Linked DNA regions of Homo sapiens: region 2 is linked to region 1. A link means that fine-mapping ties the variant in region 1 to the expression of a gene that starts in the linked region. Tissue or cell type: whole blood. Region 1 holds a variant in brackets; the other region holds the start of a gene. All regions are shown on one strand. Distances are between the middles of the regions.

Region 1 (8,175 bases):
CGGCTCTTCAGCAGTGTGGACCAGTGGCCTTTTTAATGTGTGCTTTATGTCCCAAGCTTTCCATTTCTAGGAGTTTATCCCCAAGAGGTTATCATAGTTGTGTGCAAATATTTGTCTCCAAATATCTTTATTACTTTTTTTGTAATCACTATATTATTTTATTTTTTAGAGACAGGGTCTTACTCTGTAACCCAGATTGGAGTGCAGTGGTGCATTCTTGGCTCACTGCAACCTCCACCTCCCAGGCTCAAGCGATCATCCGGCCATTTTTTTGTAATCACTTATTTTATTTTTTTGAGACAGGGTCTCACTGTGTAACCCAGGTTGGAGTTCAGTGGTGCAATCTTGGCTCACTGCAACCTCAGCCTCCCAAGTAGCTGGGACCACAGGCTTATGTCACCACGCCCAGCCAATTTTTTTGTATTTTTTTGTGCAGACGTGGTTTCGCCATGTTGCCCAGGCTGGTCCTAAACTCCTGAGCTCAAGCGATCCGCCCACCTCGGCCTCCCAACATTGCCAGTATTGCCTTCAACAAACAGAGATTCGTTTATTTCCTGTGTCTGGTAGTCTGTGGTGAGCAGCGCAGGGTTGGGCAGCAGCTCAAAGCTGTCACAGCCCCATGCTGTTTCCTGCCTGTCTGCCCTGCTGCCCTTCATGGTGGCATCTTCACTCACGCACGATGGCTGAGGCCTCACCTCTGTGTTCCAGGTGGAAAAAAGGGAAAGAAGCTGGGGGCCAAAGGGGTGCTAGCTAAGCCTGTTTTTTTTTTTTTTTTTCCAGAAAAGTAAAAACCAGCATTTATTTCTTGCCGGCTATGAAAAATAAATGTGTGTCACAGGGCCAGCCGTGGCTGACGTCAGCCAAAGGAGCAAAGGCTTCTGGGTAGAGGTTGATGAGTCAACCAACAGTGTCTGCCACGTGGGGTATTTCATTTCCATCAGTTTTCCAAATTTACTCTGATGCATGTAAGACTTTTATAGTAAAACTGTTAAGTCTTTTTCTTTTTGAGATGGAGTCTTGCTCTGTCACCCAGGCTGCAGTGCAGTGGCACGATCTCGGCTGACTGCAACCTCCGCCTCCAGGGTTCAAGCCATTCTTCTGCCTCAGCCTTCCCGGTAGCTAGGATTACAGGCATGTACCACCATGCCCAGCTAATTTTTGTATTTTTAGTAGAGACAGGGTTTCACCATGTTTGCCAGGCTGGTCTCCAACTCCTGACTTCAGGTGATCCGCCCGCCTTGGCCTCCCAAAGTGCTGGGATTACAGGCGTGAGCTACCGTGCCAAGCCTGTTCAATCTTTTAAAAAATTATATTTATCTTTTGCAATTCTGCATTCAATTTCAGACAAAATGATGGCAGGTGAGAATTCCCAGGTGGGCGTTTCTTCGAGTTTTTAGTCTGTGGGCAGAGGCCTCAGTTCCTTCATTGCACTCCCAGACACCCTCATCACCGTGTAGATGCCCGAGGGTCTGTGGTGGTGCTTGTCGGGCTGAGGTCCATTCTCAGGGATGGGCTGAATGCCCTGCTTGTGTGGGGTGTGGGGTGTGGGCTTGTATGGTGCCACTCATCCCTTCTGAACTGGGCCCTCAGGACCCCGGGTGGCTGCAGGGGGGCCTGCGACAGCCCATGAGGAGCTGCTTCCTTCAGTCCTGTGGGTTCCTGGGAGCCCACCTTTCGGCTGAGCTGGTGGAGGGCTCTTGGGAAGGCAGGAGAGAGGCTCACTGGTTTTCCTTTTCTTTTCCATCAGCATCCAGCACGTGTATGGTGCCCAGCACCCCCCCTTTGATCCACTGTTACATGGCACGTAAGTGACGTTCCAACCTCACTTGGCGTCTCGGCTCTGATATGGGAGGGCTGTGGCAACCCCGGTCTTCCTGCTTCCTTCCTGCTCCCAGGCATTCCTCAGGGAGGAGACTGGTTTCTCATTCAGCCACACTGATCAAGCAGTCGCTTTGTGTGAGATACTGTGCACCCCGTGCTGCGCATCCCGGTGAAGACGGCGGATGTGGGAGCCACAGCCTGATGTGGGGAGGTGGGGGAGCCCTGGGGAGAGCCAGGAGCTGGCATCCTTTAGCCATGGGCAGCCTGGCTGCAGGCCATCCATGCTGGCTTGTCCTTTCCCCTCCTCCTTCCCGCATTCTCCACCAGCTGCTGGAGCCCGGCCCTGGCCTGTCCTGGCCCCTCCACAGCAGGCGGGAGCGCAGAGTGTGGGGCTTGTGCTGGGCTGTTGTGACCCTGCAGGACTGCACCTGTCTGACAAGTTTCTCACGTGAGGTGGGGCCGATGTTGTGTGTTGTCCTATTTTGGGGGAATCTTGTTTAAATGATCATGTCTTCAAATCCATATACCACAGGCCTGCACCCTGCACAGGCGCTCCTGGCCCACACCCCTCACTGCTGGGCAGGAGCCTTACTGGGATTCGGGGAAGGTGCCCCAGGCACTGGCCAGAGTGAGCTGGGGTGGTCCTGCAGGGTATCACCATGTGGCCCTGCGCCTCCTCCCAGGTGACCTTCCTGGAGCCCCCTCCCCCTCCTGCCACTGAGTCCTCATGGGCTTCGCCTGCTCTTCTTTTGGCTGTCTCTGTGAATTGTGTTTGCTTTTTCACTCACTATTGCTAGATCAAAGCTGAACACTTCTATGCCTGTCTTTTCACCTGGGAATTCTTTCCTGGCTGGTTTTGGGTGAAGCCTTCGAGCATGTACGAGTAAAGACTGCCTTTGCATTGCAGTTTGCTCAGGTCCACGGCCAAGATGCCGACCACACCAGTGAAGGCCAAGAGGGTCAGCACCTTCCAGGAGTTTGAGAGCAATACCAGCGATGCCTGGGACGCTGGGGAGGACGACGATGAGCTCCTGGCCATGGCGGCGGAGAGCCTGAACTCCGAGGTGGTCATGGAGACGGCCAACCGTGTGCTGCGTAACCACAGCCAGCGGCAGGGGCGGCCCACGCTGCAGGAGGGGCCAGGGCTTCAGCAGAAGCCCAGGCCCGAGGCAGAGCCGCCCTCACCCCCCAGCGGCGACCTCCGGCTGGTGAAGTCGGTCAGTGAGAGCCACACGTCCTGTCCTGCAGGTACGATGGGAGGACTGAAGAGATGGTCTGGGTTTCTGGCCAAGCTAAGAAAGTGGCCAGAACACACTCACTGTGGGAGAATCAGTGGGTTCCCATCCTCATTTGCAGCAGGCCCCCTGGCCCACGAGAGCCCTTATGGTTCTCTTCCAAGGGTAGGGGAGTGGCCTGCGCTCTTTCCTAGGGCCCCCAAGTGCTTTCTTCTGTCCTAGCTACGTGCGTGTCTCCTCCTAGTGGAGTGGAGGCTTCTGGCCTAGCTACGTGCATGTCTTCTCCGAGTGGAGTGGAGGCACCAGGCTGTTGTGGGCTGGCCGTGAGAGGGCCACGGGGGAGCAAGCGCCTGGGGACACTGTCTCCCTCCTAACTCCACCAGCTTGTGATGGTTCCATGGGTGACATTGCCAGCCGAGGGGTCAGGCCTCTGCATGTTTAGGGGCTGGCCCTCTAGGCAGCTTACAGGATTCCTGCCAGGTGTGCGTACACGTGGGCTCAGGTCTGTAGGGGCTGGGAGTCTGACTTTTGGGTCGGCCACGTTTGCACTCTGACCCCCTCGGGTGGGGTCGTGTCTGGTGCCATGTGCATGGCACTGGTGTGCAGCAGCTGTTCTTGAGGCTGTTTCTGTGGCTGCTGCTCTTTATGTGTTGCAGGCCATCACGTCTGTGATGGAAAAGCTGCATGGTTGTGCGATGAACCCACTGTGGGCCGCGGGTACTGTTTTCAGAGCTTGGGAGACCCCACTGGACAGACTGAGGTACATCTGTGCCCTGCGGCAAGTCCATTCTGGTGAGAGGGACAGATGCAGCACTGCCCACAGTCAGCAAGGGGGCACAGAGCGTGCTGGGAGGCAGCAGGTGCCACGGTCAAGAGAGGCAGAGAATGGGGTGGGAACGCGGTGGCCCTGAGAGCAGTGGGGAGCAGGTGTCATCTGAAACGGGGAGGTCAGGGTGTCTTCGTGTCAGTGGTGCTGTTGGGAGGCAGGGGGTGAGGGGCAGGGGCGAAGTCCAGCTGGATTGGCCACTGGCCCTCATAGGTACCTCCCTCCAAGGTCTTCTGGGGGCTAGGGTGCTCTCCCCACATTTCCAGCTGAGAAGATGGAGATTGTTAGGGTGGCCTGATTTTACCCTGGAGAACTAGGTTTCATACCTAGGTCTAGTTTTTAAAACCACTTTCTAGGAATTGGTTAACTTCTAAAATGTTACAGCTCTCATTAGTTGAGAATGCTGTGCGTGATTTCATTTGATCAGTTTTCTTTTTGGAGTGTAATAAATTTTAAAGTCTTTGAACTCGTAACTGGAAATCTGGTGATGGCCTTTGCGGGAGGCTTGGAAACCTGGTGACTGACTGAAGCATGCACTGACCGCCTTCTGCAGGCCCAGTCCTGGGCAGCGCCCTTCAGCCTGTGGCAGTCGGAGTTGGCAGGATCCCTGGCTTCATCTGCTCATGGGTGGTGCTGACATTGAAGCTCTGTGAGCCTCTCAGCACCGTGCCCCCTACCCCCAAGATGCAGGGCACTGTCAGGCTGAGAGTGGCCAGGACCGCAGGACCACACGGTGTGTGGCTGGGGGATCTGACAAGAGGCAGGCTCAGGCTGTGACCAGCTGGGGTCGGGGAGCT[A/G]TGAGATGTCACCCTGGGATGTCACCCTGGGATGGCCTCATCCTGGAAGAGCCAAGCAAAGGATGCTGCAGGCAGCTTGCGCTGGGAGAAGGGGGCCCATGACCTCATTGCCTTGTGCTCCCACTTGCCTGCCTTGGAGTTGGCCACCTTTCCTGTGTTTGCTTTCTGGGCAAGCTTTTTTTGAGTACTTCAGTATAGTGACAATGATACCATATATTGATCATTTACTGTGTGGCAGGTACAGTATCAAGTCCCTGTGATACTAAACTCATTAAGCTTTGCAGCAGCACTAGGACATGGACTTATGGGCTCTGCTCAGGAGTGAGCGGCCCCTTACGTGTCCTGATGAAACCACATCAGTCATTTCTGAAGATCACAGGGAAGTCCAGCTGAGCACCTTTAATTCTGGGACTCAGTGCACAGCTGCTCTTCCTGCTGAATATTCACTCTGAGGAACTGTAAGTGCTGCTGAAGCAGGAGCCTCTGAAGGAGGGAGAGGGGGCACTGTCACCCATGGTCCTCCCCTCTGCTCAGGTGCTGGTTCTCAGCCCTGTCTGCAGTAAGGCCGGCAGCGGAAACTCTGGAGCCAGACGCCCCGGGCTGGAGCCCCAGCCCACTGCTTGGTGTGCGGCTGCTACAAAATAGGAATCACTGCAAGGGCACTGAGGCTGGTGGGAGGAGATCCTCCTGGGGGTTGGGGGGAGTCAGGGAGAGTGGGCAGCGGGGATGGGGGAGGAGACAGGGCGGTACTCTGAAGTCTATGTCCCCACTTTAGCAGACTTTTCTGGAAATTTAACTGGGCCACATTCTGCCCAGAGGCCATAGGTTGCCTGGCTCCTGGATAGCCTGAGGGTTTCTGTGTGAATTATTTTCCCCCACTCCCAGGTTATAAGGGAAATGGGGGTGCTCTGTGGGAAGGAGGGCGCGGGGGAGTGCGGCTCCTACCTCCTTGCTCAGCGGCTGCTGGAGTGGATGTCGGCCCGTCAGCTGCAGCGTTTGCTTCGGCTCCATTTCCTGGAGTTTATTTTTCACTCTACTTTAATTTTCAGTTTTTGAAAAATGAGATAGCTAGACAGGATTTAGACCCAGGAGTTTGGAGCCTTTCCCAGCCTCTTGCTTGTTGGTCTCGGATGGCAGTGTTGAGTGATCTGAGGGCCTTAGGGTCTTCCCTTGGGCTGACCCGGTCCCGGGTTGCTGGGTGGAACGTGCTGTCTCACCACCTGCTTGGATCCCCCTGGGCCTGTCCGTCTTGGGGGTCAGTGGGGCCATGGTGGGCAGCAGCAGAGGGCGGGAGGGAGGGCGGGCAGCTTGTACTCTAGTGCCACTGCGGTCACTGCCTGTGGTGGGGTCTGGGAAGGTGCCATCCCTCACCTGTCTGGCTTCCTTTGTTTCCTTGGGATGAGGGTCCCTGTGGGACCTTCCTCCCAGGGCACTGGTGAGACCCAGGAGGGCCAGGCAGGTGGCGGGGTTGGGCACGCTCTTGAGATGGCAGGTGAGAGCCCTCGCAGCGCCCTGGTTCCTGCTGTGTCCCCACTGTTGCCTTCTGTCCTCAGCACCTCTGCAGGCTTTCTCCTTTCCCTCATGGTAACTCACGGGCTTGCCCTCCGCACTCAGGCCTGGCTGACCCGAGGGCACCGTCCTACACAGACCCTCTGGGTCATGTCACCTGGGCAGGCCCTGATCTGCCACCCCAGGCACTGGTGGGAGCCTGACCTCCACACAGCCCGAGGGGCCCTGGAGTTTTCTGGCTGTCATTGTGTTGCTTTTATGCAAGGTGGTCCATTTTGTTGGTGAATAATACTCTGCCAGTGAAGCGAGTGAATTTCAAAGGTGTCAGTTCCATGTTATTGCTCAAGAAACCAAGGTCCCCACTGCTGAGTGATGGGAAGAAGGGACCCATCAGCATTCACAAAGGGACAGTGGCACAGCAAGGAGGAACGTGTAGTCGGGAGGAGCGCCCTCACCCTCACCCCCATTCTCTCACCCCTGCAGAAAGTGCCAGCGATGCCGCCCCTCTGCAGAGGTCCCAGTCTCTCCCACACTCGGCCACCGTCACGCTGGGTGGCACATCTGACCCCAGCACTCTCAGCAGCTCAGCGCTGAGCGAAAGAGAGGCCTCCCGGCTCGACAAGTTCAAGCAGCTGCTTGCCGGCCCCAACACGGACCTTGGTAAGCACCCTGCCCTCTGGAGGACACACACAGACATTTCTTGCTGTTTCTGAAATAGATCACATCTTAAAGGATTCTATGTATGCTTATGTAATGCACACGCGTCCGTGTGTAATTTGCCTTGCAGGAAGGTGATGTTTTCATGTAATATTTTCAAGTCAGTCACTAAGGTAGTAGCAATTTGTGCTTTAGACAAGTTTTGTTAATGTTTTTCCCATGCAATTTGAAAATGTATTTTGCGTTCCTTTTTGTTTTCTTTTTTTAAAATTTGAGACAAGGTCTTACTCTGTTGCCTGGCTGGAGTGCAGTGGTGTGATCATAGCTCACTGCAACCTGGAATTCCTGGGCTCAAGCAATCCTCCTGCCTCAGCTTCCTGAGTATGTGGGACTACAGGATTGTGCCACCATGCTCACCAGATTTTTTAAACAATTTTTTCTACAGATACGGGTCTGCCTGTGTTGCCCAGGCTGGTCTTGAACTCCTAGGCTTAAGAGATCCTCCTGCCTCAGCCTCACAAAGCACTGGGCTTAAGGCGTGATCCACCACGCCTGGCCCATTCTGTTTTCCTGTTGTCCCATTTGCACTCTTTATTATTGCTGCCCTTGGTGAGCCCTTCGAGGCTGGCCAGGTGGACATCCTTGTTCTTGACAGTATTCTGAAGACAGTGGCTCATGGGGGCACAGCGCTGGTGACCATCAACTCAATCTGCTGGTTTTGTACTTTCCTACCATGGGGCTTGCAGTCATCAGAGGGTGACAGGCTGTGAGCCCTGCAAGGGGGCAGGGGTGAGGCTGGGGCAGAGGGGCAGGCCCACAGGGCAGAGCACAGTCACCAGTGTGACTCTTCCTGCGCGAGTTGCTTCCAGGCACACGCAGTGCCCATGTGGACTGCCGTGGCCAGGCTCTGTGGAACGCACTTGCTTTCAGTTCCTCTGGTGGAATTCCTGCTGAATCCACGTCCTTCCTTTCCCTATCTCATCTTTGTGGAGTGCCACTCTGGCTAGGTGTTTGCTAGACGCTGGAGCTCTCGGGAGGACCGGAATGTGGCCTTGGTCATGAGATTGCTTCATTGAGGGGACAAACCTGTATCACACAGTTATGACTGGTGTCACTGTGGCACTCTAAGAGCCAGAGGTGCAACGCCTGGCTTGGCCAGGAGGTGGCGAGTGGCGCACGCGGATGGGCCGCCAGGAGCCACGCAGGAGCCATGCAGGGGCCATATAGGAGCTTGCAGCAGCCGGGCCTTCACGCTCAAGCCCAGGGCAGGGAGAGGGTTTCCGGGCAGAAGCAGCGGTTCAAAGGGCATGGCTGAAGCTGTGTTCTCGAG
Region 2 (8,175 bases), 33 kb before region 1:
AACTCTGGCTGCTGGGTTTGTGCAAAGCCTCCTGGCAGTCTTAGGAAACTCAGCAGAAATTGGTGAGGTGTTTAAGTGTGCTCTCCTGGAATTGGTAAGCAATGTATAGTGCTCCCTTCCCGGGGACTGATACTAGTTCACAGTATTTCTGCTCTCTAGCATCCTGACTAGAGGTAAGCACATGATCCCAGGGGCCCAACAGAGGCATCCTGTGACCTCAAGGGGAAGTTGTCCTTGGCAAAGACTTAAGAGACTGACAGAAGGAGACAGGCCCCTTGGGTCATTGTTGAGCTGCTGTATCAGCCCTTCTCCAAACCTTCTGAGCTACTTCTGGGCTTTTTCATTAACCAACTAATTCCCTTTGTAGTATAAGCTAATTTGAGCTGAACTTTGTCATTCTTGCAACCAACAGCACCCTAACTCATCCTGACTTAGTGTCAGGAAATGGCACGTTGCTAGTCCCTGTAATATAAAAATGGCTGAAAGGAGTTGGGGAAGGGGGCAGTGAAGACGACGCCTGCCTCTCGCGGTGTGAAACTGGGGACCTTTGCTATATGCCGTCTATTATTGTGGTAGGCTGAATAATGAACCCCTGAAGATATACCAGGACTTAATCCTGGGACCTGCAAATGTTACCTTAAATGGCCAAAGGGAGTTTGCAGGTGTGATTGAGCTAAGGGCCGGGTGATGGGGAGATCAGCCTGGACCGGATTATCCAGTGGGCCTGACGTGAGGTCAGAGGGATCTAGGAGGAATCGGAAGGAGAGAAGATGATGTGATGATGGCAGTAGAGATTAGAGTGATCTGCTTTCCAGACAGAGGAAGGAGTGTCGGCCAAGGAATGTTAAGTGGCCTCTAGAAGCTGAAAAAGGTAAGAAACTGACTCTCCCCTAGAACCTCCAGAAGGGGGCAGCCTTGCTGACGCTTTGAGTTTAGTGCAGTGAAGTGCTAAGACTTTGGACTTCTGACCTCCAGGATTGTAGGAGGGTAAATGTGTATTGTTTTCAGCCGCTAAGTCTGCAGCATTCTGCCAACAGCAGCCTTAGGAAACCAATACAGATAGAACAGTCAGCTTTTTACTTTGGGGCACAGGCTCGGTGCCTATGGACGGTACAGCACCAGGAAACTTAGGAGGCAGAACCCACCAAGTGGGAGTGTGGCAGCTCACTCAGTAAGGTCCTGTGAGAGATATTCTAAGCCCGGAGCAGGCCATCTGAAAGCAAAGAAAGCAGAAAACACTTCCCGAGGAACCCAAATGGCATTGCAAATCCAGCCATCCTGAAATACTATCCCAATTTTTTTTTGTTTGTTTTTTTGAGGCAGGGTCTCACTGTTTTCTAGGCTGGAGTGCAGTTGTGTGATCCTAGCTCACTGCTGCCTTGAACTTCTGGGCTCAAGTGATCCTCCTGCCTCAGTCTCCTAAGTAGCTAGGACTAAGAGTGTTTACCACCATGACTGGCTAAAAGAAAAAAAAAAAAGTTTCACAGAGATGGGGTCTCCCTATGTTGCCCAGGCTAGTGTTGATCTCCTGGTCTCAAGTGATCCTCTCGCCTCAGCCTCCCAAAGTACTGGTATTATAGGTGTGAGCCACTGTGCCTGGCCTGCTGCACTTTTGTTTGCCTTATCATGTAGTTCAATGTAGCTCAGTGCATAGCACAGTTCAAACTCAATAACTATATTTTAATGTATTATGAAACATTTTATACATGTAAAAACTCATAAAGAATATAACCAACACCTGAATATAGCCCATCTGCCTTAGGAAACAAAGCATAATAGCACAATTGATCCGCTATGAATGAATTCCTTCCTGTTCACAGTCCCCACCTGTACCTATAGGCAACCACCCTCCTGAATTTATCTTTTACCATTCTGGTTTTTTTTTTTTTTTTTTGAGATAGGGTTTGGCACTATCGCCAAGGCTGGAGTGCAGTGACATGATCACAGCTTGCTGCAGCCTCAAACTCCTGGGCTCAAGGGATCCTCCTGCCTCAGCCTCCTAAAGTGCTGCGATTACAGGCATGAGCCACCATACCTGGTCGCATTCTCATCCTTTAAAAGAAAATAGTACTAAATGGTATCATACCATGTGAATTAATATTCAACTTTTTCTCATTCAACACTGTGGAGTCAGGTGCGGTAGTGCTTGCATCTGTACTCAGCTACTCAGGAGGCTGAGGTGGATCACTTGAGCCCAGGATTTTGTGGCCAGCCGGGGGAACATAGTAAGCCCCATTTCAAAAACAACCCCACAGTTTGCAAAATTCATTTATGTTGATGTATGCAACTAATGTATTCATTTTTACTAACTTATGGTATTCTACTGCATAACTGTGTAGATTATCGATTCTGCCATAGATGGCATTTTGGTTGCTTCTCCCCCAGACCCCAACTACCACTAGAAGCAACGTTGCACTGAACATTCTTGTGTTTGCACGCATAGGCAAGGTACTCTAGAGCACATACCAAGAGTGGAATTGCTAAGTTATAGAGTATCTTTGCTAGAAATTGCTAAGTGGCCATCCAAAGTTAGTGAATGAACGTACACTCCTACTGGCAGTGCAAGAGAGTTCTGCTCTGCTCACAAATCCACATCCTTATTAAGTTTGGTAAAGACAGGTTTTTAAGTTTTTGCCAATCTGTTAAGTGTAACATGGTATGTCCTTAGTTTTAATTTGCATTGCTGCTCAATACTTGTTGCAAAAATGAATAAAAAATGTTCCATTCCATACCTCTGGGATTTGAGAATCTGTCCCAATTCCTAGGTCCCATATGTAGACTCCAACATCTGTATTACTTTGGCTTTCAAAACTGGCCTTCTACTCAGACTTTCTTTTTCCATCTTCACGTTTCTGTTGTGATCCTAGTAATCCTTTGCTTAGCTGGTTTTGAAGCCTTCAAGTCAATCTCAGCCTCACTCCTTCGCCTGAAAACAGTAGCTAGCAAAGTATACGGTAAGCTATAAAAAGCACCCGGATCTAAGGTGTAACCAGTCACTAAGTGCTGCCAGTTTTTCCTCTGTCAATTGTTTCAGTTCTTCCTTCCTTTCCCCTTCCATCAGGTTAATCCTGCTGTCACCTCGCTCACTGGTTCTTGCAATAAGCCAGACTGAGCTGGAAAGAACCGCCATGGTCCTCAGTGTTGTCTGTAGGGGACCTCACTGTCTGAGGCTGTCAGGGCTCTGTCAGGAGGAGACCCCTGGGGCCTTCTGAGCCCTACTAGGAGAGGATTCTAGGAGAGTAGGACGCCTTGCACATAGTAAGTACTAAGTCAATGTTACTTACCAGTAAATGAAGAGGCATGGGAAATTGTTATTATTTTTGAGACGGAGTTTCGCTCTGTCGCCCAGCCTGGAGTGCAGTGGCACGATCTGGGCTCACTGCAAGCTCTGCCTCACGGGTTCACGCTATTCTCCTGCCTCAGCCTCCAGGGAAATTCTTAATCAGAAAATATGTCTTAGATTTTTGTTTTAAAAGAGAACTGGCAGGAGCTCCAAATACACTAAAGCTCCAGTCTGAAATGACAGTCCCTGAGCATTCAATCTTTGGTCTAAGAAGCACAGAAATGTAATGCAAACCAGACACGGTTTTTTTAGTGATTTTCTGCACACACACACACACACACACACACACACAGTAAAAAGATCTAGTCATAACGTGTGCACCTGCAGTTCCAACTACTGGGGAGGGTGAGGCAGGAGGATCACTAGAGGGCAGGAGTTCGAGACTAGCCTGGGCAACATAGCAAGACACCCACCCCCAGTCCCCCCCGGAAAAAAAGAATAAAAAAGGTAAAAATAATTTTAAAAAGAGTAAAAGGAATGTAAAAATAATTTTAATGCATTTTATTTAATCCAATACATTAAAAATGTTACCTAACATGCAAACAATATACAAATTATTTTATACGACGTCTTTGGAATCCTGTATTTTACACGTAAAGCGCATCTCACTCCGGACTAGCCAGGTTTCAAGCACGTGATAGCCGCACAAGGCTGGAACCCAGGCCTGGGGAATTAATTCTTGTCCTCGGTGCTCAAACCATTCTTCCCTTCAAGCCTGGCCTAATCCCCAGTCTCTCTCATCTCTTCGAATACGCTCCGCGGTTATGCCCCTCACCTCACTGCACTGCAAATATTTCGTCCACTGAGTATTTGCTGATCGTCACTCAGTGCCGGGTGACCCAGCTTGACCAGCACCCGCAGCCGCCCTGCCACTGTTGGGCCGGGTATGGTGTGTCTGGCTTCCCTCTGTTCTGGGCCGGCTCCGAAACGCGCTCAAGAGAAATCGGAATCAGACACGGGGCAGTTCAGCTTTGGAAATGAGGAGCTCGAGGCTCCTGGGAGTCCGTTGCGGGCAGGTGGGCGCCGCTGTTGTGTCGGGAGAGCCAGGAGCGACAGACTCAAACTCAGAAACCCAACCACCTCCGCTCCCTCCGCGATGCGTGTAACGTGCGTTGCGCGGCGTCGCCCTTTAATAACGACGGGCGCTCGGAGTGCTGCGTCACTCGCCACCAGGGACTTAGGCGGGACTTCCGGGCGCGCGTAGGCACAACTTCCGGAAGGAGGCGGAAGAGCTTCTCGGCTCTAGGCTCTGGAGTCCCGGGAGCAGTGAGGGGCCACCCGGGGCACAGGAAAGGGCCGCTAGGGGAGGGCCGGGTGCACTCGGGGTGTCTGGGCCGCGGGTCTGAGGGATGAGGAGGGGCCATGGCCAGCGACGGGGCCAGGAAGCAATTCTGGAAGCGCAGCAACAGCAAGCTCCCGGGCAGGTGGGTGTGCCGCGGAGGGCCAGGTCGGGGTCAGGGGTCAGAGGTCAGGTGGCCGCGTTGGCCTCCTGGGCTGCGGGTGGAGTCGGGGGTCTGGAGAGGGCAACTTGGACTCTGAGGAGACTGCTGGATGGTGTGACGGGCGTTGGGGGGCTCGGAGGTCGGAGCGTGGGGTCTGGGGGTGACAGTGGCTGCACGTAGGATCGAGGCTTGCAAGGACGAGGAGGAGCTATTGGCGTTTTTCCTGACACTGGCAGGCTTCTTTCCGAGAAACTCCTGGGCTCCTTGGGGAGGCTGGAAGGAACTGATTCGGGTCATGCTGTGAAGTTTGGTGGAGTCCGGAAGCTGGCCGGGCTGAGGCCCCCCGTCTGCTGGGTGGATCAGTTTCTGCAGGGGGTGTGGTGTTTTTGACCCACTTGATTTGCCTGTGGTCTCTTGAGGGCTGCGGCTCTTGCCTTGAGCATAGAAGAGGACTAGAGTTTCCCTGTGAGTTTCCATGTTTCTGCTTGCTGGTGTCAAAACCACCTCCTATGTTGTGTTAGCAGGAAGTTTTTTTTTTTTTTTTTTTTTTTTTTTTTTTTTTCTTCGGCTGGAATGACCTGGGTACACCCTAGATGCTATACAGCTCCAGAGCTCCAGAGTCCTTGTCTGATTGCTGTGGCGCTGAGCTATGCCAGGGCCCTAGGGAATGAGACATTACGTGGAGGGTACCTAGGATAAAATCAGCCACTGGTGAAAACAGATCAGAGATAAGCAAACGTCAAGATTTCAGAACATAGTTCTGTTCCAAAGCTGAAGTCTGGAATGCTGAAAATTATGAATTGTGTTACGAAGATAAGTCTGAGTAGAATCATTCATAAACACAGTAAAATGGTTTGTACTCCTGTTTCATAATAAATATTATTGTTTGAGTGTTTGAATGATAAACTTTGGAATTTACTGCATCCAGTTAGAAAAGTTTACTTTTGGCCAGGTGTGGCGGCTCACGCCTGTAATCCCAGCACTTTGGGAGGTCGAGGTGGACAGATCACCTGAGGTCAGGAGTTTGAGACCAGCCTCACCAACATGGAGAAACCTAGTCTCTACTAAAAATACAAAATTAGCTGGGCATGGTGGCACATGCCTGTAATCCTGGCTACTTGGGAGGCTGAGGCAGGAGAATCACTTGAACCTGGGAGGTGGAGGTTGCAGTGAGCCGAGATCGTTCCATTGCACTCCATCCTGGGCAATAAGAGCGAAACTCTGTCTCAAAAAAAAAAAGGAAAGTTTACTTTTAAGAGTGATCTGGGGGTTAGCAGCGTGAGTTACTGACAGCTCAGACAGTGGCTTTGAGAATGAAGGGAGTCATCAAAGGTGGCCGGAGACCCTATTCGACTCCACAGGACCGTGCTTGATTCGAGAACAGTAAGACCTTTCAACAAAACCAGTGTCAGGGTCCAAGGTGAGTGAAGATTCTGGAATGGTGGTGGGTAGGAGGTCCTGGTAGTGACAGGAACAAATGCTGTAGAACATAAGAGTCCAGGGAAGAGGAGCCACATGACAGTGTAACTTTTATGTGTTACTTTTAGGTCTTAAGGTTTTGGTTCCTCATCAGTCTAAACTCTAATTCTTAATCAGCTTAGATGTAAGAATAACAGAGCTGCTGTGTGGAGTTACAGCAGTGACTCAACCTTTGGATTGAAGGCTGTGGCTCTTGGTAATTTGTCCTTATACTGAGTTGAATTTATGTCCATCTGGAAACTATGGATGTGACATTTGGAAATAGGGTTTTTGCACAAGTAATCAAGGTAAAATGAGGTCATACTGGATGAGGGTGGGCCTTAGTTCGTCAACTAGTATTTTTATAAAAAGAGGGAAATTTGAATACAGAGAGACACACACAGGGAAATGGCCCTATGGAGACAGAAACAGAGATTGGAATAGTACATTTACAAGCCAAGGAAAGCCAGGGGTTGCTGGCAGCCACCAGAAGCTAGAAGAGGCAAGGAAGGATGCTCACCTAGAGACTTGACAGAGAGCATGGCCCTGCAGATGACCACTTGATTTTGGGTTTTTGGCGTTTAAAACTGAGAGAGAATAAGTGTCTGTTGTGTTAAGCCATTCAGTTGGTGGTAATTTGTTATGGCAGCCACAGGAGACTAATACAGTCTCCAGCTTTCTTCTGTGTGAACCTGAAATACCGAACACCAGCTTTCCTTTTCCTCTGACTTTGATGCTATTCTGTGTCTTAGGCACTTTTGAGAGCAGCTTCTGTATTACCTTTGTGAAGTTGGAGTCTTGGAGAGTTCGAGGCTGTCACTGAAGAGGGCAGAAGAAGAAGGAGAGGTTGGGTGCACCAGGAAGGCCTGTGAAGCCTCTGTGTCTCCCATCCGTCTTGTGGCTCAAGCCTCTGGCAGTGCTGCTCTTTCAGGTGGCAGGCTGGAACTCTTCCCTGAAGGAGGAGTCACAGAGGGGTGCCCGTTTTCCTATCAGTAGTGGTGATTGGTCACTAGCTGCGTATTTATTTAGTCCACACCTATGCAAGCACAGTGCTAGTGGAGATCCTAGCCAGGTTCCTGTGGCTTTGGCAGCTCTTTCAATTGTTTCCCATGATTGTTTTCTTTCTTTTTTTGTTTTTGTTTTTGTTTTTGTTTTTTTTGAGATGGAGTCTCACTGTGTTGCCCAGGCTGGAGTGCAGTGGTGTGATCTTGGCTCACTGCAACCTCTGCCTCCCAGGTTCAAGTGATTCTCCTGTCTCAGCCTCCCAAGTAGCTGGGATTACAGGCGCCCACCAGCACGCCTGTCTGTTTTTTTGTATTTTTAGTAGAGATGGGGTTTCGCCATGTCGGCCAGGCTAGTCTCGAACTCCTGACCTCAGGTGATCCATCCACCTCAGCCTCCCAAAGTGCTGGGATTATAGGCGTGAGCCTCCATGCCTGGCCTTGTTTTCCTCCTTTTTTTTTTTTTTTTTCTGAGACAAGAGTCTCTCTCTGTAGTCCAGGCTGGAGTGCAGTGGCATGATCTCAGCTCACTGCTACCTCCACCTCCTGGGTCCCGGTTGAAGCAGTTCTCCTGCCTCAGCCTCCTGAGTAGATGGGATTATAGGCACTGGCCACCACGCCCAGCTAATTTATGTGTGTGTGTGTGTGTGTGTGTGTGTGTGTGTGTGTGTGTGTGTGTGTATTTTTTTTGAGACGGAGTCTCACTCTGTTGTCCAGGCTGGAGTGCAGTGGTGCGATCTCGGCTCACTGCAAGCTCCGCCTCCCGGGTTCACGCCATTTTCCTGCCTCAGCCTCCCGAGTAGCTGGGACTACAGGCGCCTGCCACCACACCTGGCTAATTTTTTATATTTTTGGTAGAGACGGGGTTTCACCGTGCTAGCCAGGATAGTCTCGATCTCCTGACCTTGTGATCCTCCTGCCTCGGTCTCCC

Evidence for each region. PIP is the estimated chance that this variant, and not a neighbour inherited with it, causes the effect.
Region 2: it holds the start of TBC1D22A, and the variant in region 1 is fine-mapped to the expression of TBC1D22A in whole blood (TOPMed, PIP above 0.99).

What each region holds. Positions count from the first base shown.
Region 1 is chr22:46,790,773-46,798,947 of GRCh38, forward strand. TBC1D22A (TBC1 domain family member 22A) reads left to right here. Exons shown (of 13, transcript NM_014346.5): 2 at 1,748-1,804; 3 at 2,729-3,069; 4 at 6,672-6,848. Among named protein-coding and RNA genes, the nearest start is that of TBC1D22A, 32 kb to the left of the region's middle. RefSeq lists enhancers at 719-828, 7,545-8,045. The variant A/G (reference allele first, on the strand shown) is at 4,680.
Region 2 is chr22:46,758,082-46,766,256 of GRCh38, forward strand. It overlaps TBC1D22A (TBC1 domain family member 22A), which reads left to right and starts at 4,569. Exons shown (of 13, transcript NM_014346.5): 1 at 4,569-4,767. The coding sequence starts at 4,706. It overlaps TBC1D22A-DT (TBC1D22A divergent transcript), which reads right to left and starts at 4,447. Exons shown (of 1, transcript NR_186691.1): 1 at 3,830-4,447. RefSeq lists enhancers at 3,616-4,450, 4,187-4,316, 5,017-5,096, 6,027-6,096, 6,137-6,216 and 1 more and a silencer at 5,217-5,276.